3 separate regions of the Homo sapiens genome follow, and regions 1 and 3 are each linked to region 2. The links come from fine-mapping of genetic effects on gene expression. A gene starts in region 2. Each other region holds a variant in brackets. All regions are shown on one strand. Distances are from middle to middle.

Region 1 (8,175 bases), 26 kb before region 2:
CTCGGCTCACTGCAACCTCCGCCTTCCAGGTTCAAGTGATTCTCCTGCCTCAACCTCATGAGTAGCTGGAAGTACCGGCGCCCACCACCATGCCTGGCTAATTTTTGTATTTTTAGTAGAGACGGGATTTCACCATGTTGGCCAGGCTGGTGTCAAACTCCTGACCTCAAGTGATCTGCCCACCTTGGCCTCCCAAATTGCTGGGATTACCGGCGTGAACCACCGCACCTGGCCGAGTTAGACCTTTGAGAAATTAAAAGACCTTAAGAGGCTGGGTGCGGTGGCTCACGCCTGTAATCCTAGCACTTTGGGAGGCCAAGGCGGGCTTATCACTTGAGGTCAGGTGTTCAAAACCAGCCTGGCCAACATGATAAAACCTCATCTCTACTAAAAATACAAAAATTAGCCAGGCGTGGTGGCGGGTGCCTGTAATCCCAGCTACTCAGGAGGCTGAGGCAGGAGAATTGCTTGAATCTGGGCGGTGGAGGTTGCAGTGAGCTCAGATTGTGCCACTACACTCCAGGCCGAGTGACACAGCGAGACTCATCTCAAAAAAAAAAAAAAAAAAAAAAAAAAGACCTTAGGAGGTAAAAGGCCCAGCCTTGGGAGCAAGAGTCTGTGCTTCATGGGCCAGGGAATGGGAAGAGACTTGAACAACTCTCTCGCCTAGAGGCTCCTAGCCTAGGACTTCTGGGAGCTTCTCCCATAGCACAGTGTATCAGAGAGCCCCACAGTTGGACTCCTGGGTTCAGAGCCCAGATCCACCACTCCTGAGCTGCGCACCTCTGAGCCTCAGCTTCCTCGCCTGTGAAATGGAGATATTAAACATCCACAGTAGCCCAGGTATGGTGGCTCACACATGTAACCCCAGCACTTAGGGAGACTGAGGTGAATAGATCACCTGAGGTCAGGAGTTCAAGACCAGCCTGGCCAACATGGCAAAACCCCGTCTCTACTAAAAATACAAAAATTAGCTGGGTATCGTGGCACACTCCTGTAATCCCAGCTACTCAGGAGGCTGAGGCAGGAGAATCGCTTGAACCCAGGAGACGGAGGTTGCAGTGAGCCGAGATCGTGCCACTGCACTCCAGTCTGGGTGACAGCTCGAGAATCCGTCTCCAAAAAAAAAAAAAAAAAAAAAATCCACACTAGAGCAGCATTCTCACCATGTAATGGAATAAGGAGCATGTCTGGTTCTTGGTGAAATGTGCAGTTGAGTTTAAGGCCCAGCTGTGGCCAACACTCACACACTCAAGTCTGCTGTGGAAGGCACAGGCTGCTGCTGCCCGTCACGAAACGAAAATCCACCAGCCCAATCACTAAGGTTAAAATCGCTTTTTGTTGCTGCGGGTGCTTTCTGTCAGGTGATTCCCAGAGAGAGCTATTACCTTCTGGGAGCCCATGAAATTTTAGAATGATGGCCTTGTGATGGAAAATGCTAGAAGTGTGGTTGAATCTAATTCCTGATTGGTGGGCAGTGCAGGGCAGGACAGGGCCATGGTGGCCTCAGGCTCAAGGGCAGATGGCCTTGGCTTCAAATCCCAGCTCTGCCACTCCCCCGCGGACTCAGCAGTTCTCACCCAGGGACGGGCTCACCTGCAGCTTCTGGGCTGCTTTCCTGGTTTCCTCCAGTTAAGGAACAAGTTGTCCTGAATTAGGGCAGGAAAGACCAGAGTCACGTAGTCCCCATCATCTCTCCTGGTTCCAGGCTGGTCCGGGCCCTGCTGTGGGACTGACTCGGCAGAGACCCTCCAGGAATGCCTGCCACGGTCACTCCCTGGGGACCCAGCTGGCTTCTATGCAGTGCTCAGGGCTCCAAGGGTGCATTTCCAGAAAGAGCCAGATGGACACGATGTCCTTTTCTGCCCTGGCTTCCAGAGTCACAAAGCACTGCTCCTGCGGCATCCTGTTTACCACTCCCGTCAGGAGCACCTGCCCAGGCTCAGGGCAAGGGGACATCACCCTACACCTCGGCGGAAGGGGTTCAAAGAAGCGACAGCCCTCCACATAAATTATCACACTGAATCTTCCAATCACTCCACGGGGCAGGGCCTGTGATTCATCTGTCTTGCACACACAGGAAAACCAAAGCTCAGAGAGGCAGAGAAGGCCTTGCCCGAGCACACAGCTGGCAGGTGAAGAGCCCGTTTTTAAACCCAGGAAGTGGGTCCACGCAGCCTGAAGTCCCAGTCATCCTGGCGCCCACCTCCCGCATGCAGTCAGAACCCAGGCTGAGCTCCAGCCCCTGCTGCACATTTCTGAGCTTTTCAGCAGCTTAGAGGGAAACACAGGCAGTGTCTGTAACCAAAACCACATCAGGCGCTGCCTGGAAGCCTGGACCCCCACCCCCACCCCCAGCACCATCCCATCTGCACAGGCCCCTACCAGTGCCGACCTGTCACTATGCACTCAGCTCCCAGCACGCAGGCACAGCCCCAGTGTGGTCCTGGTGACCCCGGGCAGACAATTCCAGAATGGAGACCTCAAGGCTTCGCCTTTGACCCTCTCACCATAGCCAGAAGTTTTGGCAAAAACTGCCCACAGAGGGTCCCCACCCTCCATGCCTGGACAAGCCGCAAGCTCCTCAGGCTGCTGGGGTCCCCCCTCCTCCCTGCCTTCGCAACAGTCAGAGCTACCGGGGAATTGGCTGCCTTGTGGAGGTGGAAACAGCCCACCAGGTCCAGGGGATCCAGGGAACGGCTCTGTGCCCTGTGGGGGCTCTTCTAGCTTTGGCAGCAGCAGCGGCAGCACCTACTGAGCCCCACGCCCACGTGGCAGGCACTGATGGAAGCCCATTACCGCCACCACACTGCCTGTCGTACACCTGGGGAAACTGAGACTCTAAGAGGACAAAGCAAGGGCGGAGTTAGGCTGGGTGGGGCTTGACGCTCATAAAATGTGGGGTCCTGTTTAAGAGAAAGAAGACAAAACCAGGAACAGAGCGTGGCTCACGCCTATAATCCCAGCACTGTGGGAGGCTGAGGCGGGCGGATCACCTGAGGTCAGGAGTTTGAGACGAGCCTGACCAACATAGAGAAACCCCATCTCTATTAAAAACAGAAAAGTAGCCAGGCGTGATGGCGCATGCGTGTAATCCCAGCTACTAGGGAGGCTAAGGCAGGAGAATCGCTTGAACCTGGGCGGTGGAGGTTGTGGTGAGCCGAGATCGTGCCATTGCACTCCAGCCTGAGCAACAAGAGTGAAACTCTGTCTCAAAAACAATAAATAAATAAAAGAAAAGTGGAACAAGTCACCAACCCACTTCCACCAGCAAAGGCTTGTGGTGCTTTCCACAGGTAGCTGGGCCATCCGTGCTCAGATAATGGATGTGATGGTCTTCAGCCTCATTGGTGTGCTCACCGGTGTCCCATTCTAGCTGCCTGAGGATCACCACATGCATAAAGGAAGGGCCCTGATTTGCTTTGGGGGCCCTGAGGGGGAGCAGTT[T/C]TCTGTAACCACATGGCTGCTCCAGCCCTCATGCATCTTAGAGACAGGACAGGAACTCCTGGGGACGATGAGGCAACACACAGGCATCCTCTTCTCAGCCCAAGGCAGAAAGCTTAATTGGCAAGAAACCTACCCGCAGTGGCATGGCTGGAGCCTGCCACTCCCCTGACTGATTCCTGCAGCCTTGGGGAGGGAAGGAAGAGCCCGCACCTCGGAACGGGCCAGGCCTCAGTGGCCCTGACTGGCAACGTGGCTTTGGGCAAGTTTTTTATATCTGTCTGTCTATCTTCATCAGTAAACTAGAAATACTTCTCAAAGGGTTGTTCTGAAGATTTGAAGTAGTTGCTCAGAAAGTGACTGGCACATCTGTGCCCTGGGGATGTGTGGCAGGCAGGAGGAGACGGACGTCTCACTGCACACCCGCCTGTTACCCACGTGCACCAGACTGATGTCTCACTGCACACCCGCCTGTTACCCACATGCACAAGCAGTCTGCTCCTTCACAGCCCAGCTAGAGCGTGCAATGGGATGTCAACCCAGCTAGACCATGCAGTGAGATATTACTTGGCAATCAGAAAGGACACAGCTCTAACTCATGCTGCGGTGTGGGTGAGCCTCAAAAGCGCCGTGCTGAGTGAGAGACACAAGACACAAATGTTCCACATGTTACATGACTCAGTTCCTATGAAACCCACAGAGACAGAAGCAGCAGGGCGGGGGTGGGGACCATAGCTAAAAAGTACCAAGCTTCCCCCTTGAGGTGGAAGTTCTAAAATTGACTTGGGATGGCTGCACAACTGTGAATATACCCAAAACCATAGAACTGTACCCTTCAATTTTTATTTACTTTTTTTGTTTTTTGTTTTTTGTTTTCTTTTTGAGATGGAGTTTCACTCTTGTTGCCCAGGCTGGAGTGCAATGGCATGAGCTCAGCTCACTGCAACCTCTGCCTCCCGGGTTTAAGTGATTCTCCTGCCTCAGCCTCCCGAGTAGCTGGGATTACAGGCATGCGCCACCACGCCTGGCTAATTTTGTATTTTTAGTAGAGACATGGTTTCGCCATGTTGGTCAGGCTGGTCTCGAACTCCTGACCTCAGGTGATCCATCCGCCTCGGCCTCCCAAAGTGCTGGGATTACAGGCGTGAGCCACCGTGCCCAGCCTATTTACTTATTTTAAGAAAGGATCTCACTCCGTCACCGAGGCTAGAGTGCAGTGGTATGATCACAGCTCACTGCAGCCTCAACCTCCGGGGCTCAAGCCATCCTCCCACCTCAGCCTCCCAACTACCTGGGACCACAGGCGTGCACCACTGCACCTGGCTAGTTTTTGTATTTTTTGTAGAGTCAGGGTCTCGTTATGTTGCTTAGGCTGGTCTCAAACTCCTGGCCTCAAGCAGTCCTCCCACATCGGCCTCCCAAAGTGCTGGGATTACAGACATGATCCATTGCGCCCAACCAGGCTGTACACTTTAGATGGGAGAGTTGCATGGTATGTGAATTCTATCACAATAATGCTGTGGGTTTTGCTGCTGCTGCTGTTGTTTGAGACAGAGTCTCTCTCTCTGTTGCCCAGGCTGGAGTGCAATGGTGCCATCTCGGCTCACTGCAACCTCTGCATCCTGTGCCAAAGCAGTTCCTGTGTCTCAGTCTCCCGAGCAGCTGCGATGACAGGCACCTGCCACCATGCCTGGCTAATTTTTGTATTTTTAGTAGAGATGGGGTTTCGCCATGTTGGTCAGGCTGGTCTTGAACTCCTGACTTCAGGTGATCTGCCTGCCTTGGCCTCCCAAAATGCTGCGATTACAGGCATGAGCCACTGTGCCCAGCCTATAATGCTGTTTTTTTTTTTTTAATTAACTGGATAATTATAAACGTGAACATGCGTGCATAGAACTGATGCATGTGTCTGCCAGTGTGGACACTCCCGGGCTTCCTTCTGGTAGCTCAGCCACCTCTCTTGACCCTGACCCTCACTGCTTGATGTTAGGAGACAAGCCCAAGGCATCTGGGTTGCCAGCTTCCACCTTGGAAGGCCAGGGCCCAGCAAAGTCAAGGTGATGTGATGTGGCTGAGCAGGGAGGCCATCTTCCTTGCAGACAGGGACTCTGTCACTTTGGACTGGACTCTTGTCCCACAGTGCTGGCCAGGGGCAGGTGCAGAGCTATGCTTGGTTGGCATGGGACGCTGATGAGGGCTGTGTTGCGGCCAGGCCCAACCACCGTGAGCTGAGATCATGCCACGGCACTCCAGCCTGGAAGACAGAGTGAGACTCTGCCTCAAAAAAAATAAAAAAAATAAAAAGTTATAAATAGAACTACCCTATGATTCAGCAATCACACACTTCTGGGTATATATCCAAAAGAGCTGGCTGGGCACAGTGGCTTATGCCTGTAATCCCAATATTTTGAGAAGCCAAGGCAGGAGGATCGCTTGAGCCCAGGAGTTGGAGAACAGCTTGGGCAAGATGGCAAGACCCCCTGGCTACAAACAATTAATTTTAAACCCTGGTGTGGTGTCCTAGCTACTTGGGAAACTGAGGCGGGGGGATCGCTTGAGCCCAGGAATTAGAGCCTGCAGTGAGCTATGATGGCATCATTGCACTCCTGCCTGGGTGACAAAGTAAGACCCTGACTCTTTTTGTTTTTTGGCTGTGAGTGTATTCAATGCAAAATAATCCTCTCTGATTTTACTGAGGTAGCTGGCCATGTCCACGACCAAATCTGCCTTTAAACTGGAATTCGGTTGCTGACCCAGCCCGAGCCTCGGCTATCTTGTCGGCACCAGGGGCACAGCACTCCGTCTGTAGGTATGTCTGTCAGCTTCCCCTCTTGTGAGTCTTGCAGGTCGCCCACCCTCCAGACCTTTAGGCCGAGGCCTGCCAGTCCCTGGACGGCTGCAGCATAGGGTGGCAGGCACAGTTTCCAGGGACAGATGAAGGTAATCACGGAGATACTGGATGCCCTCATTGGTAAGGTAGCAGTAGAAATGTCTCCAGGCAAGCCGGGCGTGGTGGCTCACGCCTGTAATCCCAACACTTTGGGAGGCCGAGGTGGGCAGATCACGAGGTCAGGAGATCGAGACCATCCTGACTAATATGGTGAAACCCCGTCTCTACTAAAAATATAAAAAATTAGCTGGTCGCGATGGCGTGAAGATGTAGTCCCAGCTACTAGGGAGGCTGAGGCAGGAGGATCGCTGGAACCCAGGAAGCAGAGGCTGCAGTGAGCTGAGATCGCACCACTGCACTCCAGCCTGGAGACTCTGTCTGAAAAAAAAAAGAAAGAAAGAAAGAAAGAAAGGAAGAAAGAAAGAAATGTCTCTAGGCAAACTGTTCCTTCAGGCAGCCTCGGGGCTTGAGAGACTGCATGGCCTTCGTGACATGAAGGTTGGGCACATTCTTGTCTGCCATCTCCGGGTGCTTAGGCATGTGGACATCCTTCTTGGCCACCATGACTCCCTCCTTAAAAAGGAGCCCATAGGCCGGGCACAGTGGCTCACCCCAGCACTTTGGGAGGCCAAGGCGGGTGGATCATCCGAGGTCAGGAGTTCAAGACCAGCCTGGCTAACATGGTGAGACCCTGTCTCTACTAAAAATACAAAAATTAGCTGGGCGTGGTGGCAGGCGCTGGAGGCTGAGGCAGGAGAATCGCTTGAACCTGGGAGGCAGAGGTTGCGGTGAGCCAAGATCACACCATTGCACTCCAGCCTGGGCAACAAGAGCAAAACTCCATCTCGAAAAAAAAAAAAAAAAGGTTAAGATGGTAAATTTTATGTTATGTATATTTTATCACAATAAAAAGTAATATTTTTTGCAGCCAAGGTATGCTAAAAGAAATGGCTTTATTTTTATTTTTATTATTAATTAATTTATTATTATTATTATTATTATTATTATTATTATTATTATTATTATTTGAGACAGAGTCTCACTCTGTTGCCCAGGCTGGAGTGCAGTGGCATGATCTCGGCTCACTGCAACCTCTGCCTCCTGGGCTCAAGCGATTCTCCTGCCTCAGCCTCCTGAGTAGCTGGGACTACAGGCGCCCACCACCACATCTGGATAATTTTTGTATTTTTAGTAGAGACAGGGTTTCACCACGTTGACCAGGCTGGTCTCGAACTCCTGACCTCAAGTGATGCACCCGCCTCGGCCTCCCAAAGTGCTGAGATTACAGGGGTGAGCTACTGCGCCCCAAGAAATGACTTCAAAAGGAAAAATGTGAGCACCAACGTAAGCTGGTGTAATGTAACGTAATTCCCACCAATGTAAGTTGGCAGGAATCCTTGCTCTGTATAGAAGGGTCACATTTTCTCATCACTGCTTGCAAGTGTGACAGCAGTGGCCTCATGGCCTTATCTGGGGGAAAGCACTTCCTTCCAAGCACCATGAAGGCCTCACGTGCTGAGACAAGATGGAAGCTCCTAGTCTCCCCTGAGGACTGACACGTCCTGTGCTTCTCGGTCTCTCAGGACGCGCGGGCGGCCATGCGCCCCTTCGACCCCTCCACTCTGCTGCCCACCTGCTGGGATTACTGGACCTACGCGGGCTCGCTCACCACCCCGCCGCTGACCGAGTCGGTCACCTGGATCATCCAGAAGGAGCCCGTTGAAGTGGCCCCAAGCCAGGTGAGCCGTGCCCGTAACTGGCACGATGGCGCTTCATGGAAGGCGTCCCTCTTGCTTGGCAGCGTCACTAAGATGCTGCATGAGAGCGTTGTGGAGTTATAT
Region 2 (8,175 bases):
TGTCACCCAGGCTGGAGTGCAGTGGTGCGATCTCCCGTCACTGCAACCTCCGCCTCCCACGTTCATGCCATTCTCCTGCCTCAGCCTCCCGAGTAGCTGGGACTACAGGCGCCCACCACCACGCCCAGCTAATTTTTTTGTATTTTTGGTAGAGACGGGGTTTCACCATGTTGGCCAGGCTGGTCTTAAACTCCTGACCTCAAGTGATCTGCCTGCTTCGGCCTCCCAAAGTGCTGGGATTACAGGCATGAGCCACCGCACTCGGCCAATGTTTATATTTTTAGTAGAGATGGGGTTTCACCATGTTGGCCAGGCTGGTCTTTAACTCATGACCTCGAGATCCCCCCGCCTCGGCCTCCCAAAGTTCCCAAATCGCTGGGATTACAAGTGTGAGCCACCGCGCCCAACCAATTTAAACATTTTCTGGTTGACAATTGTTTGAGTTTGTTGTCTAAAGACCTGGGATTGTTGCCGAGCATGGTGGCTCACGCCTGTAATCCCAGCACTTTGGGAGGCCGAGGTGGGCAGATCACCAGGAGTTCGAGACCAGCGTGGTCAACCTGGTGGAACCCAGCCTCTACTAAAAATACAAAAATTAGCCAGGTGTGGTGGCAGGTGCCTGTAATCCCAGCTACTCGGGAGGCTGAGGCAGGAGAATCACTTGATCCCGGGAGGCAGAGGTTGCAGTGAGCCAAGATCGTGCCATTGCACTCCAGCCAGGGCGACAGTGAGACTCTGTCTCAAAAAAAAAAAGAAAAACACAAAAGACCTGGGATCAGTAGAAAGCAATGTTTGGAGGCCGGGCACAGTGGCTCACACCTGTAATCCCAGCACTCTGGGAGGCCAAGGCGGGCGGATCACGAGGTCAGGAGATGGAGACCATCCTGACTAACACGGTGAAACCCCGTTTGTACTAAAAATACAAAAAAATTAGCCGGGCGTGGTGGCAGGCGCCTGTAGTCCCAGCTACTCTGGAGGCTGAGGCAGGAGAATCACTTGAACCCAGGAGGCGGAGCTTGCAGTGAGCCGAGATCGCGCCACCACACTCTAGCCTGGGCGATAAGTGAGACAAGAAAGAAAGAAAGAGAGAAAGAGAGAAAGAGAGAGAGAGAGAGAGAGAGAGAGAAAGAAAGGAAGGAAGGAAGGAAGGAAGGAAGGAAGGAAGGAAGGAAGGAAGGAAGAAAGAAAGAAAGAAAGAAAGAAAGAAAGAAAGAAAGAAAGAAAGAAAGAAAGGAAGGAAGGAATGTTTGGGTTGTGGTGAGGCTGTGGAGATGAAAGCTGTATCATGCAGATGAAGCTTTTAGCTAGGAGGCTTCAAAGAGAACAGGCTGTAAAATGTTAATCTTTAAGTCTGATAGACTTCAAGTATGTGTTGGTGTTAGTGCTGGAGAGGTCTAAAGAGGCCGTCCAACCCCCGATTCTCTTCCTGGCCCAAACCAGTCTTTCAGGTTAAATGTTAAGAGCCCTGGCTGAGGAGGAAGTCTGTTTAGATGTCTGGGGTGGCCCTTAGAATTTTATTTTTGGTTTACAGGGTTTACCAGGTAAGTCGTTTTCCTGGGAAAAAGAACGAGTTGAAAGGAAGAGCAAGGATCCGCTCCGGACCTCACTCCTATATTTTGCTGAGATGAAAACCACAATCCCTGCACTGCGAGACTCATCTCATAATTAGAAAACAAAGGATTATCCACCGGGTTCTCTCCCCTCGCCCTGTGGCCTTGCTGCTCCCCTGCAGTTGCTCCAAATGACAAAATAATGACGGGTTCGCCTTGTGAGAGAGGGTGGCCTGCTCAACTCCACGCTGGCGCTCTGAGGGGGGCAGAAGATGCCTCGTCTCATTTATGTTGCAAACAGCCTTAAAAAGGACCTGCAGGGCGCTGGGCGTGGTGGCTCACGCCTGTAATCCCAGCACTTTGGGAGGCTGAGGCGGGCGGATCACGAGATCAGGAGATTGGGACCATCCTGGCTAACCCCAATTCTACTAAAAATACAAAAAATAAAAAATTAGCCGAGCATGGTGGCGGGTGCCTGTAATCCCAGCTACTCCGGAGGCTGAGGCAGGAGAATTGCTTGAACCCGGGAGGCGGAGGTTGCAGTGAGTTGAGACTGTGCCACTGCACTCCAGCCTGGGTGACAGAGTGAGACTCCGTTTCAAAAAAAAAAAAAAGAAAAGAAAGTATTCTCCCAACCAGCTCAAGCGAGAGTGCCACAACTTTTTTTTCTTTTCTTTCTTTCTTTTTTTTAACCTCTGAAAATACACAACATGTGATAAATTACTGACTGGAGCTGAAAAGACCATTGTCCTGCCTCTGTAAAAATCAAAACGCTGCCGAATCTTTCCAACAGATGGCACTCTTTGCTAAGATTCTAGAGTCATAGCTTTCAGGCGAAGGCGTTTCAGGGCCGGCATCAGGGACGTCTGAGAGGAGTAGATTTGCTGGATAAATCTAGAATGTTGTCATATGAAAACCCAGTAAAAACCGACAGAGGTGGCGTAATAGCTGTGTGACTTGAACACGCTCATGGCTGTTGTCACCCTTCCTGCTTAAGGGCTCCAGCACTTGCCAGGAGCCTGGCTCTGGGGGCACCAACCATGACTTGCACCAACTGTGCAGGGCCCCCTCTGTGCCGGTGGGGACCCCTGCACCTCCCTTATTAATTCTCACTCACCCTGGGCTCTCAGCTCCAGGTACCACCTCAGAAAAGTCTATCTGGACCTGCCTGGTCCCTGTCGCTGTCGCTGGCTCACCCTGTCATGTCCTTGGCTTATCATGGTTGTAATTTTATGCTTTGGGGTATGACTGTTGGTTGCCTTTCTTGTTACTCAAAGAAGAATGGTGGAATGATTAAAAGTACCATATAAGTTCAGAGTCAAAAGGACAGCTCCCAGGCTACTTGCTGGCCGGACAAGCGAGGTAACCCTACCAAGCCTCAGCTTCCTTATTTGCAAAATGGCTCTAACTGGCACCTACCCTATTGCATAAGAAGCTGTCTAGGGGAGGACTCAGTGAGCACTCGGTGAGTTTGCCCAGCCATGGTGGTACTGTCTCCTTCCCTCTGCAGGCACAGCGGGAAGAATAGGGCAGATGGAGGGGTCTCTGCACCTTCCACAGCCAGCAATGTGGACGGCAGATTACAAGTTAGTATCTGTGTGACCTCCGCACTCCCCCGCCTGTGGCTGCCTGGGCTGCTGAGATTTCGCTCGGTTTTATCACCGCAGAGGAATGCCCGACATACCGGGGGGCGAGCAAGGTCCAGAATGACAAGCCCTGGCATTCCTCAGCCGCCCCCTCCCTGGGGTGGGGCCTGGACATTCCTGGCTGCAGCTAGAGGTCCCAGCACGACAGGGATTCTGACCCCCCTCCACCACGGCTATTGTTCAGAATTCTGTGGATTCCAGAGGCATCTGCCCAGCAGACTGTCTTGCTGTGAACACCCAGCTCTGCAACCGGTGTTTGCGTGTTTGCCCTGGGAGGCTGAACGCTCACCCAGAACAAAGGCCTCCCCACATGCCTGCTGTGAGCTTCCAAGGACTCGTTTGCACACACGCCAAGGAACCCCGGGGTGGGGTGATACTGAGGAGCTTCCTCCCTGACCCACACACACCCTTTGAACAGGTCTTTGGCCGCTCACCAGTCTGGTCAATCTCGGGGCAGTATTTATATTCCTTCCCATTTCCAGGCCTAGGAGCCTTGGCATCCTGCTCTCGCCTCTAACTGAAATTACCTCTCAACCCTTTTTAGCTAAGATGCCTCTCGCATTCCCTAGGAATAACAAGCTTTAAAGCCCCTTCACACTGAAGCCTGCCTTTGAATTCCCCAGGTAGATTTGGGGGTGGGGGTCTTATGGCTCCCAGCGAACCCCCGGTTCTGTTGATTAAATTGAGCTCAGGCAGATTGCTGGCTTCCCAAAGCCTGTGTTATTACTGCTTCTCAAAGCTACGGGCACCGGATCGCCGTCTTTGGCAAGATTCTTTTGGGATACAATGGGAATTACTGGGTGGCCTCGGTTCGGTTCTTCCCTCGTCCCAGTTCGCGGCTCACCAGCCCCACTGATGCAGCCCCCAGGCTGGAAGGAGGCTGCAGGAGCTTCCCCTCAGGTCATCCTCTCATCCCTCCCCCGTGCCCCAGGAGCTGGTTGTGGGGGCGGTTCCATCCCCTCGGCCCATCCGGGACAGGAGCCTAGGTTCCCTTCGGGGGGTACCCCAAACTCCATCCTTGGCCTCAGGCCAGCCCTGGTGCACTGCCCGCTCCCAGGCTTGACGAGAGGCTGCGGGCCAGTGGGTGAAGGGGCGCGCCCTGACTGCCAGGCCCCGCCCAGGCGCATCCGGGAGGACGGGCTGGGATGACGCGGGCGCCGGGAGGGGGGAGGTCGCGAGGCCGGGGTCTCCATGGCGCAGGAGGACTGGGGCCTTCGAGGACCACGCGGGCCTGGGAATAGCCCGCCAGGCTGGGCCGGACGACGCACGTGCTCCGAGCTGGGCCGAGGGGGCGGGGCTGAGGGACGGGGCCGGGCCACGGGGCGGGGAGGAGCCGCGGACGGTGGGCGGGGCCGGCGGGCCGGGGCCTAAAAGGCGGCGCGGGCGGGGTTCCTGACGCAGCTGCGGGCGGCGGGCGGCGCGCACACTGCTCGCTGGGCCGCGGCTCCCGGGTGTCCCAGGCCCGGCCGGTGCGCAGAGCATGGCGGGTGCGGGCCCGAAGCGGCGCGCGCTAGCGGCGCCGGCGGCCGAGGAGAAGGAAGAGGCGCGGGAGAAGATGCTGGCCGCCAAGAGCGCGGACGGCTCGGCGCCGGCAGGCGAGGGCGAGGGCGTGACCCTGCAGCGGAACATCACGCTGCTCAACGGCGTGGCCATCATCGTGGGGACCATTATCGGCTCGGGCATCTTCGTGACGCCCACGGGCGTGCTCAAGGAGGCAGGCTCGCCGGGGCTGGCGCTGGTGGTGTGGGCCGCGTGCGGCGTCTTCTCCATCGTGGGCGCGCTCTGCTACGCGGAGCTCGGCACCACCATCTCCAAATCGGGCGGCGACTACGCCTACATGCTGGAGGTCTACGGCTCGCTGCCCGCCTTCCTCAAGCTCTGGATCGAGCTGCTCATCATCCGGCCTTCATCGCAGTACATCGTGGCCCTGGTCTTCGCCACCTACCTGCTCAAGCCGCTCTTCCCCACCTGCCCGGTGCCCGAGGAGGCAGCCAAGCTCGTGGCCTGCCTCTGCGTGCGTGAGTACGGGGCGCGGGCCGGGGGTTGGGAGGTCGTAGTCTCTGGGTCCCTGCATCCTTGCATCACTACGCCCCTGGCTCCCACATCTCTACATCTTTACGTTCCTGGACCATCCCGGCAGTTCTAGGCTAAGGTCATTGGTCCCAGAAACCACGTGCGTTTCTTTCATTCATTCTTTTACACTTCTCCCCACAGGCTGGGAATATCTTCAGTGACGGGACAGCAGGGTCCCTGCCCTGCCCTTCGGTGGGCATTCCATTCCCCCACTTAAGCGGTTTAGGCAAGTGCCACCCTCCCGTTGGCCCCGCTGAGCAATACTCCCAGCCTCTTGCGTGGCACCCACGTGGAGTAACTGAGCAATCGGTTTACTGTTAGAGCTCCGATTGCTGACTGGTTGGTGAGAAGGAAATTGCAGTTAAAAAAAAAATCATTCATTTCTGCTCTCCACACCAGCTCGTCAGGAATCAGTGACACGGGCTGACTCATAAGAAAACAGTAGTAATAACATCGTGTGCGGGTAGTGACTGGTGCTGATTTAGGCTAAGGGATCCCCCCTGAGGGTTCCCAGTAGTGAGAGAGCGGAGCTTGGCTGCAGATTCAGTCTGTGTTGCAGTGAATGGACGTGCGGGTCCCAGGTTTCTCTGGGAAACAGCCATGGGGCTCCTGTTTTGGTGGGCATGGTGCTGGTGTGTTCTTCACCAGGCCAGAGATAACTGCTTTTCAAAATAGTTTTCTTTTTCTTTTTCTTTCTTTTTTTTTTTTTTTTTTGACACTGAGTCCCGCTCAGTCGCCCAGGCTGGAGTACAGTGGCACGATCTCGGCTCACCGCAAGCCCGCCTCCCAGGTTCATGCCATTCTCCTGGCTCAGCCTCCCGAGTAGCTGGGACTACAGGTGCCCGCCACTACGCCCGGGTAATTTTTTTTGTATTTTTAGTAGAGACGGCGTTTCACCGTGTTAGCCAGGATGGTCTCGATCTCCTGACCTTGTGATCCGCCCGCCTCGGCCTCCCAAAGTGCTGGGATTACAGGCGTGAGCCACCGTGCCCGGCCTCAAAATAGTTTTCTTGTGGGATTTCAGGGGGAAAATCACTTGTAGCAGATGCCACATGATTTGGTTGGGTGGCGTGGGAAGGTGGGTCTTGGCAATTCTCAGATTCATCCCATGGCATGGATCGGCCTGCATCTCAATAGTGTGTGTACACATTCAAGGTGGGAAGGGCTAATTTATAGTTGGGGTCTTGAGCCATGAAATCAGGGGAGTGGCTTCTGACTGGCAGGACCTGTTGGCGCTGTTTTCTGCCACACCGTACTTTGGGGGGGAGGGGGAGGGGGAGGCATTTCTTCATAAATGTGAGAATGCCCCGAGGGCAAGACTCAGCAGGGCTCTGTGTGGTTTCTCTGAGGCTCTGAGTCGAGCAGCCGCACCACCATGCAGGTCAAAGCCGGGAAAAATCGTAGCAGGACAGCAGTGGGGAGAGCCTGTGCCTTCCAGCTGGGCGTTGGAGATGTGAATGTAGGGGATGACTCTGATTTCTTTTTTTGTCATTAGAATTTCACTGGTTCAGTCTCCCTCCCGCCTAGGTACATGTCGGCCCGGTATGTAACGACATGGATAGTAGCTTACGCAGCCTGCACTCTTATCTTTAAAAAATGAACCCCTGGTTGGCTGGGTGTGATGGCCCACGCCTATAATCCCAGCACTTTGGGAGGCCGAGACGGGCGGATCTACCGAGGTCAGGAGTTCGAGACCAGCCTGACCAACATGGTGAAACCCCATCTCTACTAAAAATACAAAAATTAGCCGGGCAGAGTGGCTCACGCCTGTAATCCCAGCTGCTTATGAGTCTGAGGCATGCTCCGGGATGTGGAGGTTGCAGTGAGTTGAGATCCCGCCACTGCACTCCAGTCTGGGTGACAGAGCAAGCCTGTCTCAAAAAAAAAAAAGCAGCCCCTGGGTGCTGAGTCTCTGACTTCCTGCTGGTGCCAGGAGTGAGTCGTGGGAAATGCTTCATTGGCCACCAGGAAGGAGACGTAGGATGGGGCGCTGCCTAGTTTTCTCTTTCTAATAAAAATCACATCAGTCATACATGAATTCATCATCATTTAAAAATTCAAACCAGCCAGGCACTGTGGCTCACACCTGTAATCCCAGCACTTGGGAGGCCGAGGCAGGCGGATCACCTGAAGTCAGGAGTTCGAGACCAGCCTGGCCAACATGGTGAAACCCCATCTCTACTAAAAATACAAAAAATTAGCTGGGTGTGGTGGCAGATGCCTGTAATCCCAGCTACTCGGGAGGCTGAGGCAGGAGAATCACTAGAACCCAGGAGGTGGAGGTTGCAGTGAGCTGAGATCGCACCACTGCACTCCAGCCTGGGCAACAAGGCGAAACTCCATCTCAAAAAAAAAGCAAAAATCAGCTGGGCGTCATGGCGCACACCTGTAGTCCCAGCTACTCGGAGGCTGAGGCAGGAGAACTGCTTGAACCAAGCATGGTGCCACTGAGCTCCTGCCTGGGTGACACATTTCTCCTCCTTTACCACCCCCGACCCCCAGAGTTTCTGCGGCTGACAGTGTATGCTTCCGGAGCTGCTTCTGTTACAAATATATCGCTGGCCTATTTATTTAAAAGATCATAATGTACAACTTGTTCTCCACCTTTTTTTTAAAGCCTAAAATGGTTTTGCCATGTTCCCAGGCAGTACGCAGAGGCTGCCCTCTTTAGCTGCTAAGAAGACTTCCCTGTGTCGGCAGGAACAAGTGTGCTCACCGCACCCCCGCCCCCCCATAGAACCCTGTGGAGGGCATTTGGGGTTTCCCAGCTTTGTGCAAATGGGAAAAGGGTATGTGGTTTTTTGCTTTTTGTTTTTGATTTTGTTTTGAGACAGAGTCTGTGTCTGTTGCCCAGGCTCGTTGCTCACTGCAACCTCTGCTTCCTGGGTTTAAACGATTCTCCTGCC
Region 3 (8,154 bases), 87 kb after region 2:
ACATGTAATAGGATTATCACTGACAGAGTGGTTTTCTCTGCATTAGTGGGTGAGTGCAAGGGGACTCTGGTTATGTTTAAAGAGGCTGGGGTCTACATCCTCTGTGAACTCTCAGAAATCACTGCTCAGGGCCTCCTTTCAAGACGCACCAAGCAAAACCGATCTTCAAGTACAAAGGGCATAGACAAAACATCGACGTGCAAGAACTCATTATTCCCATAAGCCTTTGTATTTTTTTTTTTTTTTTTTTGAGATGGAGTCACACTGTGTCGCCCAGGCTGGAATACAGTGGCTCAATGTCGGCTCACTGCAACCTCGGCCTCCTGGGTTCAATTGATTCTCCTGCCTCAGCCTCCTGAGTAGTTGGGACTAGGGGTGTGCGCCACCACACCTAGCTAATTTTTGTATTTTTACTAGAGACAAAGTTTCACTGTGCTGGCCAGGCTGGTTTTGAACTTCTGACTTCAGGTGATTTGCCCGCCTTGGCCTCCCAAAGTGCTGCAATTACAGGTGTGAGCCACAGTATCCAGCCTCCTTTTTTTTTTTTTTTTTTTGAGACAGAGTTCTACTTTGTCTCCCCCAGGCTGGAGTGCAATGGCATGATCTCGGCTCACTGCAACCTCTGTCTCCCGGACTCAAGGAATTCTCATGCCTCAGCCTTAGAGTACCTGGGATTACAGATGCCTGCCACCGCGCCCGGCTAACTTTTTTATTTTTAGTAGAGACGGGGTTTTTGCCATGTTGGCCAGGCTGGTTTTGAACTCCTGACCTCAGGTGACCCACCCACCTTGGCCTCTCAAAGTGCTGGGATTACAGGCATGAGCCACTGTACCTGGTCCCTATATGCCTTTTAAGGAACCTCCTAGAGGCTGGGTTTCAGACAACCAAAGTGACAAGATATCAAGAGAAGGACTGCTGGGAGTGGGAGATACACGTGCATAGCTGTTTGAAGGACTAGGACAAAATGAGAGATGTGATCATATGCAATGACTCTGTGATTTGACAATGTAGAAATTATGCACATTTAAAATAGGGGTTAAGGCCGGGCGCACTGGCTCATGCCTGTAATCCCAGCACTTTGGGAGGCCGAGGCAGGCAGATCACCTAAGGTTGGGAGTTCAAGACCAGCCTGACCAACATGGAGAAACCCCATCTCCACTAAAAATACAAAATTAGCCAGGCGTGGTGGCACATGCCTGTAATTCCAGCTACTCGGGAGGCTGAGGCAGGAGAATCGCTTGAATCTGGGAGGTGGAGGTTGTAGTGAGCCGAGATTGTGCCATTGTACTCCTGCCTGGGCAACAAGAGTGAAACTCCATCCCCCCCCACCCACCAAAAAGAAGTAAGATGATGTCGGTTACATTAGATCTCTTTCACTGCTGCAGTCATAATTTTGCAAAGGCGGCTTCAGCTTCTGCACCCAGCCATGGCAGGGAGAAAGAACACGGAAAGCAAGACATAGTGGTCTCCAGTTTTATCCCTGGAGCCTGGGAGAGAGCGGGAGTGGGTTTGGCCCGTGAGGTAGGAGCTCCTTCACTCCCAGCACACGGCAGCGTCAGGGCCCCCAGAGACAGCTCTGGAGGCAACGTCCCCAACCCAGCACTCTGGCCCCATCAGAAACCAGGGAGTGGCCCTACTTCTTCCAAGGTTCTGGCCTGAAATCTGAGGGTGTCGCAGCCAGAAGGTGCAGTGTGGTTTGCAGGTCACCACAGAGAAAATGGGACTTGGGTGTGAGGATGTTCTGTTTCTCCAATTCTGCCTCGAAGGGCCAAGTTACTTTGGGCGAGAGATTCGGGAACTCCAGGAGAGCTATGCCAACTTCTCCATGGCCCTTCAAAGGCATGAGGGATATTCTTGCAGTCACCAGTGCAGAGAAGCCATGCTCAGAGCCTGAGCCGTGTTGGCCTCGTTTTCTAATCACGGTGAAATGTGGATTGCCCTTGGAATGCCACCACCCACATTCCGGCTGCTGTGAGGTCAGCGGCCCCTGAGCAGGAAAAATGGACAACTTGCCGTCCCCTGTGGCTCAGCGGTGATAGCCTACTCTCTCCTAGCAGAGAGAGAGCCGGACAGACTCCATTTTAGTTTCTTCACCTGCAGTCCCCTTTCATCTCCCTCCCTTAAGGCATAACTAGTGTAAACTGACTCAAAGCACGTCCAGAAATGCACCTACTGATAAGATACAGAGGCAAGCTGCACCAGCAGCTCCTCGGGACGCGCTCGGTGGATGGCACCCGAAGCCCCTGCATTTATCTCTTTGTGATAGTTTAAGCCCCTGCACCTGGAACTGTTTATTTTTTGTAACCAATTAATTTTTTTTTTTTGAGATGGAGTCTCGCTCTGTCGCCCAGGCTGGAGTGCAGTGGCGCGATCTTGGCTCACTGCAAGCTCTGCCTCCCGGGTTCAAGCCATTCTCCTGCCTCAGCCTCCCGAGTAGCTGGGACTACAGGCGCCCGCCACCACGCCCGGCTAATTTTTTGTATTTTTAGTAGAGACGGGGTTTCATCACGTTAGCCAGGATGGTCTCAATCTCCTGACCTCATGATCCACCCGCCTCGGCCTCCCAAAGTGCTGGGATTACAGGCTTAAGCCACCGCGCCCGGCCATGTAACCAATTAAATTTTTAACTTTTTGCCAGTTCTGCTTCTGTAAAAATTGCTTCAGCTAAAATCCTGCCTCCGCTGTTTAGACCACGGTATAAAAACAAAACTAGTCCCTTCCTCAGGGCTGAGAGAATTTTGAGCATTAGCTGCCTCTTGGTCGCTGGCTAATAAAAGACTCTTTAATTTGTCTCAAAGTGTGGCGTTTCTCTGTAACTCGCTTGGTCACAACACGACGATGGGAGGCGTGTTGGATTCTGAGTCCTGGGAGTTTGTTGTGGGTTGGCTTTATTTTGTGTATTCTTATCTGTGGATGTTTTCGGTTGGCTTGAGTGGAACCCCGTCATCCTTGCACAGTTGGATGGGCAAGCGCCTCGGGAAGGTCTCCCTTTCATTTTCTGGGTAAAGAACTCACTTTGTCGGCATCTGGATGCCACGTGGCCTGAGTCTCCTGTGACCTCTGTGCCGGTGCTTTGGCTGTGGGGGGTTGGGAGAGGCTGGAGGGTGGGTGGCACTGAACCAGCCTGGCCTGGGCACTCTGGGAGTGTGCACTTCACAGTGAGGGGTCACAGGCACAGAAGGAGCGAAGGGATGGGACTCCCAAAGAGGCTTCAATCCCCATGACTACCAAGACTCTTTTTTTTTCTGTGACGGAGTCTCGCTCTGTTGCCCAGGCTGGAGTGCAGTAGCGTAATCTCGGCTCACTGCAACCTCCCTTCCTGGGTTCAAGTGATTCTCCGGCCTCAGCCTCCCGAGTAGCTGGGATTACAGGCACGCACCACCATGCCCAGCAAATTTTTGTATTTCTGGGAGAGACAGGGTTTCACCATGTTGTCCAGGCTGGTCTCAAACTCCTGACCTCAAGTAATCCGCCTGCCTTGACTTCCCAAAGTGCTGGGATTACAGGGGTGAGCCACTGCGCCCGGCCTTTGACTACCAAGGCTCTAGATGGTTCCCATCCAGAGAACTTGGCATCTGCACATATCAGCAACGGGCGATACTGCAGCAAGACCTGCGGTTTATCCTAAGTAGTAAACGGCTGATATTTAGAATCTCGTGAGCAAATCAACTGCAGAGACAAGGGACCCATGGGGGTAAAGGGAGGGGAAGGCCAGAGTCAGGTCCATGGGGAGAGCACCAAAGGCAGCTCCCACTTCTTCAGCTTGTGAAAGGAAAATAAATCTTGGAAATCTTGTGGCCCTCAAATCACTAAGCTAAAGGGAAAAGTCAATCTGGGAGCTGCTTAAGGCAAAACTGCCTCCCATTCTATTCAGTCACACCTCTGCTCACTGAGATACATACATATCTGATGGCGTCCTTTGGAAAGGCTAATCAGAAATTTCAAAAGAATGCAACGGTTTGTCTCTCCCCGACCTGCCACCTGGAAGCCCCCCTCCCTGCTTGAGTTGTCCTGCCTCTTTGTACGGAACCAATGTACATCTTACATATATTGATTGATGTCTCCATGTCTCCCTAAAACGTGTAAAACCAAACCGTGCCCCAGCCACCTTGGGTACATGTCCTCAGGACCCCCTGAGGCTGTGTTACCGGTGGACGGTGTCCAGGTTCTTGGCATCTTGGTGTTGTCCAACAAATAATTGCACAAAATGCACAAACAAAGCAAAAAGAGTGAGGCAGCAAAAGCAGAGAGTTATTGAAAACGAAAGTACAAGGCCGGGCGCGGTGGCTCACACCTGTGATCCCAG[G/C]ATTTTGGGAGGCCGAGGTGGGCGGATCACAAGGTCAGGAGATCAAGACCATCCTGGCCAACACGGTAAAACCTCGTCTCTACTAAAAAATACAAAAAATTAGCCAGGCGTTGTGGCGGGCACCTATAGTCCCAGCTACTCGGGAGGCTGAGGCAGGAGAATGGCGTGAACCTGGGAGGCGGAGCTTGCAGTGAGCTGAGATCACGCCATTGCACTCCAGCCTGGGCGACAGAGCGAGACTCCACCTCAAAAAAAAAAAAAAAAAAGAAAACGAGAAAGTACATTCCACAAGGTAGGAGTGGGCCCCAGCATAGGGGCTCAAGAAACTGGTTACAGAATTTTCTGGGATTTAAATACCCTCTAGAGGTTTCCATTGGTTGCTTGGTGTATGCCCTTTGTGAATGAAGAGGCTAAAGTGAAGTTACAAAGTCATTTACTTGGTGTACGCCCTGTGTAAATGAAGAGGATGAAGTAAAGTTACAAAGTCACTTACTCATTTGTCAATGAAATCATTTACGCTTCATTTACACAGATGCCCTATGTAAGTAAAGAGGATATTTCCTGTCATAGCTGAAGTGTTTCTATTTTATTTATTTATTTATTTTTGAGATGGAGTCTCTCCCTGTCATCCAGGCTGGTGTGCAGTGGCACGTTCTCAGCTCACTGCAACCTCCGCCTCCCAGGTTCAAGTGATTCTCCTGCCTCAGCCTCCTGAGTTGCTGGCATTACAGGCACCCACCACTACACCCAGCTAATTTTTGTATTTTTAGTAGTGACGGGGTTTCACCATGTTGTCCAGGCTGGTCTTGAACTCCTGACCTCAGGTGATCTGCCCGCCTGGCCTCCCAGAGTTCTGGGATTACAGGCGTGAGCCACTGTACCAAGCCCTTACATTTGATTTAGTCCTAGGCAGTCTCTCGGTTCCCTTCTTCCAGGATCTATTCTCCTGACTCAGCTGTGTCACAGTGCCTGTCTTTGACCTGGCAAAATAAGCTTTCTTCATTGATTGAGACCTGTCTCAGATTTTTGGGGTTCACAGGCTCCCAGGGCATTTAGGGTGCCACTGAGCACCACGACTCGGTGCGTTTCCTCCCAGCAGCAGGAGGCCACACACCTGGAGCTACACAGGGTGAGATGGGTTAGGGTCTAAAATCTCTGCATTGAAGAGTGAACCACATCTAAATGCAATGTTGTCTCCTGCGTAGGATCCTGGATGGGAACAGGAAAAGGATGTAAGTAGGAAAAGACCCAGGGAAATCCAAAGCAAGTCTGGGGTTTAGTTAATGGCAATATACCAATGTTGGTTGCTTAGTTTTGACCAATGTACCATTGTATGGAAGATGATCACTGGAGAACTTCAGGAACTATCTTAGCTGTCCTGCAAAGCTACGATTATCCCAAAAGAAAAAAATTATCAAAACAAGTAAATGAGGCTGGGCGCGGTGGCTCACACCTGTAATCTCAGCAGTTTGGGGGGCTGAGGCGGGTGGATCACTTGAGGTCAGGAGTTCAAGACTAGCCTGACCAACATGGTGAAACCCCGTCTCTACTAAAAATATAAAAATTAGCCAGGCATGGTAGTTCAGGCCTGTAATCCCAGCTACTCAGGAGGATGAGGCAGGAGAATCGCTTGAATCTGAGAGACAGAAGTTGCAGTGAGCCAAGATCGTGCCACTGCACTCCAGCCTGGGCGACAGAGTGAGACTCCATCTCAAAAAAAAAAAAAAAAAAAAAGGAAGTGAATAAAAAGCCACAGGAAATAGCTCCCGAAGGCTGAGCCTGTGGGGAGAGGGTGAAGGACTTGTGGGCAGAGGGAGGAAGGCGTGGGTGGAGGGAGGAAGGCAGACACAGGAAAGCTAGACTGGGTGCTCCACTGAGGGACATGTGTGGTTCTCTTTGCAGGAAGCAGAGCTCAGCTCTTGCCCTCTCACATCCTTTGAAGATGACCACCTTGAAGATTAGGATGAAAAGCAAACCCTCGGCTCCTGGCCTGAGCTCTTGGCAATCATGTCTCTCACCAGGCAGGAAGCAAAAGAAGATTGTTTCTGCACTCATTTGTTTTCAGAACAGTGGAGCAAACAGTCATTTACTGGTCTCCATAGACACTGAAGAGACACCAGGTGGCGGTGACTCTGCGGGTTGCAAATGTCCCCAGCGTCAGATTCATATTATTTCCCCTGACCCCCTCTGTCCTCTGTGGATGAGGAGAGCTGGGCAGAACACCTTGGTGGGGTCTCAGGGCTCCAGCGGTGACCACTGCTGGGTCGGACCAGCAAATGGAAAGGAGCCCACGTGTGCTCTCTGTGGCCCGGGCGGTAAAGAGGAGGTGGATCCCGGGGCTGTGGGTGAGAGCAGTGGGAATACCAGGTACTATTTCTTCCCTCCATTAATCCTCCCAAAAGATTGCTATGTCTGCACCAAAGTCCCTGCTTAAAACTTTGGAACAAGAATGTAGCTTCAACGGCCAGGCGTGGTGGTTCATGCCTGTAATCCCAATGCTTTGGGAGGCCAAGGCAGGCGGATCACCTGAGGTCTGGAGTTTGAGACCAGCCTGGCCAACATGGAGAAACCCTGTCTCAGGCCGGGCACGGTGGCTCACGCCTGTAATCCCAACACTTTGGGAGGCCGAGGCGGGTGGATCACCTGAGGTCGGGAGTTTGAGGCTAGCCTGACCAACGTGGAGAAACCCCATCTCTACTAAAAATACAAAAAAATCAGCCAGATATGGTGGTGCATGCCTGTAGTCCCAGCTACTCGGGAGGCTGAGGCAGGAGAATCACTCGAACCCAGGAGGCAGAGGTTGTGGTGAGCCAAGATCATGCCATTGCACTCCAGCCTGGGCAACAAGAGTGAAACTGCGTCTCCAAAAAAAAAAAAAAAAAGAAAAAAGAAACCCTGTCTGTACTAAAAATACAAAATTAGCAGGGTGTGGTGGCGCATGCCTGTAATCCCAGCTACTTGGGAGGCTGAGGCAGGAGAATTGCTTGAACTTGGGAAGCAGAGGTTGCGGTGAGCCGAGGTCGTGGCATTGCATTCCAGCCTGGGCAACAAGAGTGAGACTCCCTCTCAAAAAAAAAAAAAAAAAAAGGAATGTAGCTTCTTGTACATTATTGACCTGGGGGTAGGGGTGAATTTGGGATTTCGGGACATTGCTTCAGAGGGCATCCTGACTCCCTCTCGGCCAGGTGAGACCTGGTGGCAGGGCCCCAGCGGCTGCCTGGGGACCAACCACCCGGCTGAGTGCCGGAGCAGCCAGCTCTGACGTCCGCGACCAGAAAGGACGCCAGATGCTTCTGTTGACGTTGACAAAGGGCTTTGCCAGGAGGCTCAGGCCCGCCTGCGGGCTGGTCCCCATCCTTCCTCTTAGACCCCGCGAGGGTGATGCAACCTTCGCATACTGCGGTTGCGAGGCTCCAAGGCCGCCTTCTGCGCGGGAGGAGTGACCCCTGGCGGCCGACGCAGACATTGCGGGCTTGGTGCTTGGACTCAACTTCTGAGCTGTGTTGCATCAGCCAACGGGCCCTAAGGAAGCTGAATAATGCCTCAGGCTTCCTGCCACCCTGCAGGCCGGGAAGTTGGCAGGTGTGGCGGGTGGGGTGAGGGGTCCGAGTCCCATGGCCTAGGACGTTCATTTCTCCGAGGCTCGGTCTCTCCTCTGGTGGGACCATGTCTCGAAGAGCCCCTGGCTTGGCTTCTGGAGCTGGCGGCCAGGTAGGAGCCCCCAGGAAAGCTCCATCGGCTGCTGCTGAGCCGAGCTCTCCTGAACCCGGCCTGCGCTGCCCCCAGCGCACCTGGACCACAGACCCAAGTGATGTGATATGAAGAGGGAATGAAACGCTGACAGGGAG

What was found. PIP is the estimated chance that this variant, and not a neighbour inherited with it, causes the effect.
Region 1: its variant is fine-mapped to the expression of SLC7A5 in blood mononuclear cells (TOPMed, PIP above 0.99).
Region 3: its variant is fine-mapped to the expression of SLC7A5 in whole blood (INTERVAL, PIP above 0.99).

Annotation. Positions count from the first base shown.
Region 1 is chr16:87,891,697-87,899,871 of GRCh38, reverse strand. It overlaps CA5A (carbonic anhydrase 5A), which reads left to right. Exons shown (of 7, transcript NM_001739.2): 6 at 7,918-8,073. Among named protein-coding and RNA genes, the nearest start is that of SLC7A5, 26 kb to the right of the region's middle. RefSeq lists an enhancer at 1,338-2,037. The variant T/C (reference allele first, on the strand shown) is at 3,448.
Region 2 is chr16:87,865,924-87,874,098 of GRCh38, reverse strand. SLC7A5 (solute carrier family 7 member 5) reads left to right here and starts at 4,592. Exons shown (of 10, transcript NM_003486.7): 1 at 4,592-5,214. The coding sequence starts at 4,677. RefSeq lists a cis regulatory region at 2,229-2,555, enhancers at 2,517-3,278, 2,635-3,834, 3,279-4,038, 7,644-7,693 and a silencer at 4,279-4,628.
Region 3 is chr16:87,778,850-87,787,003 of GRCh38, reverse strand. LOC102724467 (a long non-coding RNA gene) reads left to right here and starts at 7,856. Exons shown (of 4, transcript NR_120309.1): 1 at 7,856-8,154. RefSeq lists enhancers at 6,151-6,250, 6,321-6,380, 6,406-7,271, 7,402-7,491, 7,822-7,921 and 2 more. The variant G/C (reference allele first, on the strand shown) is at 4,307.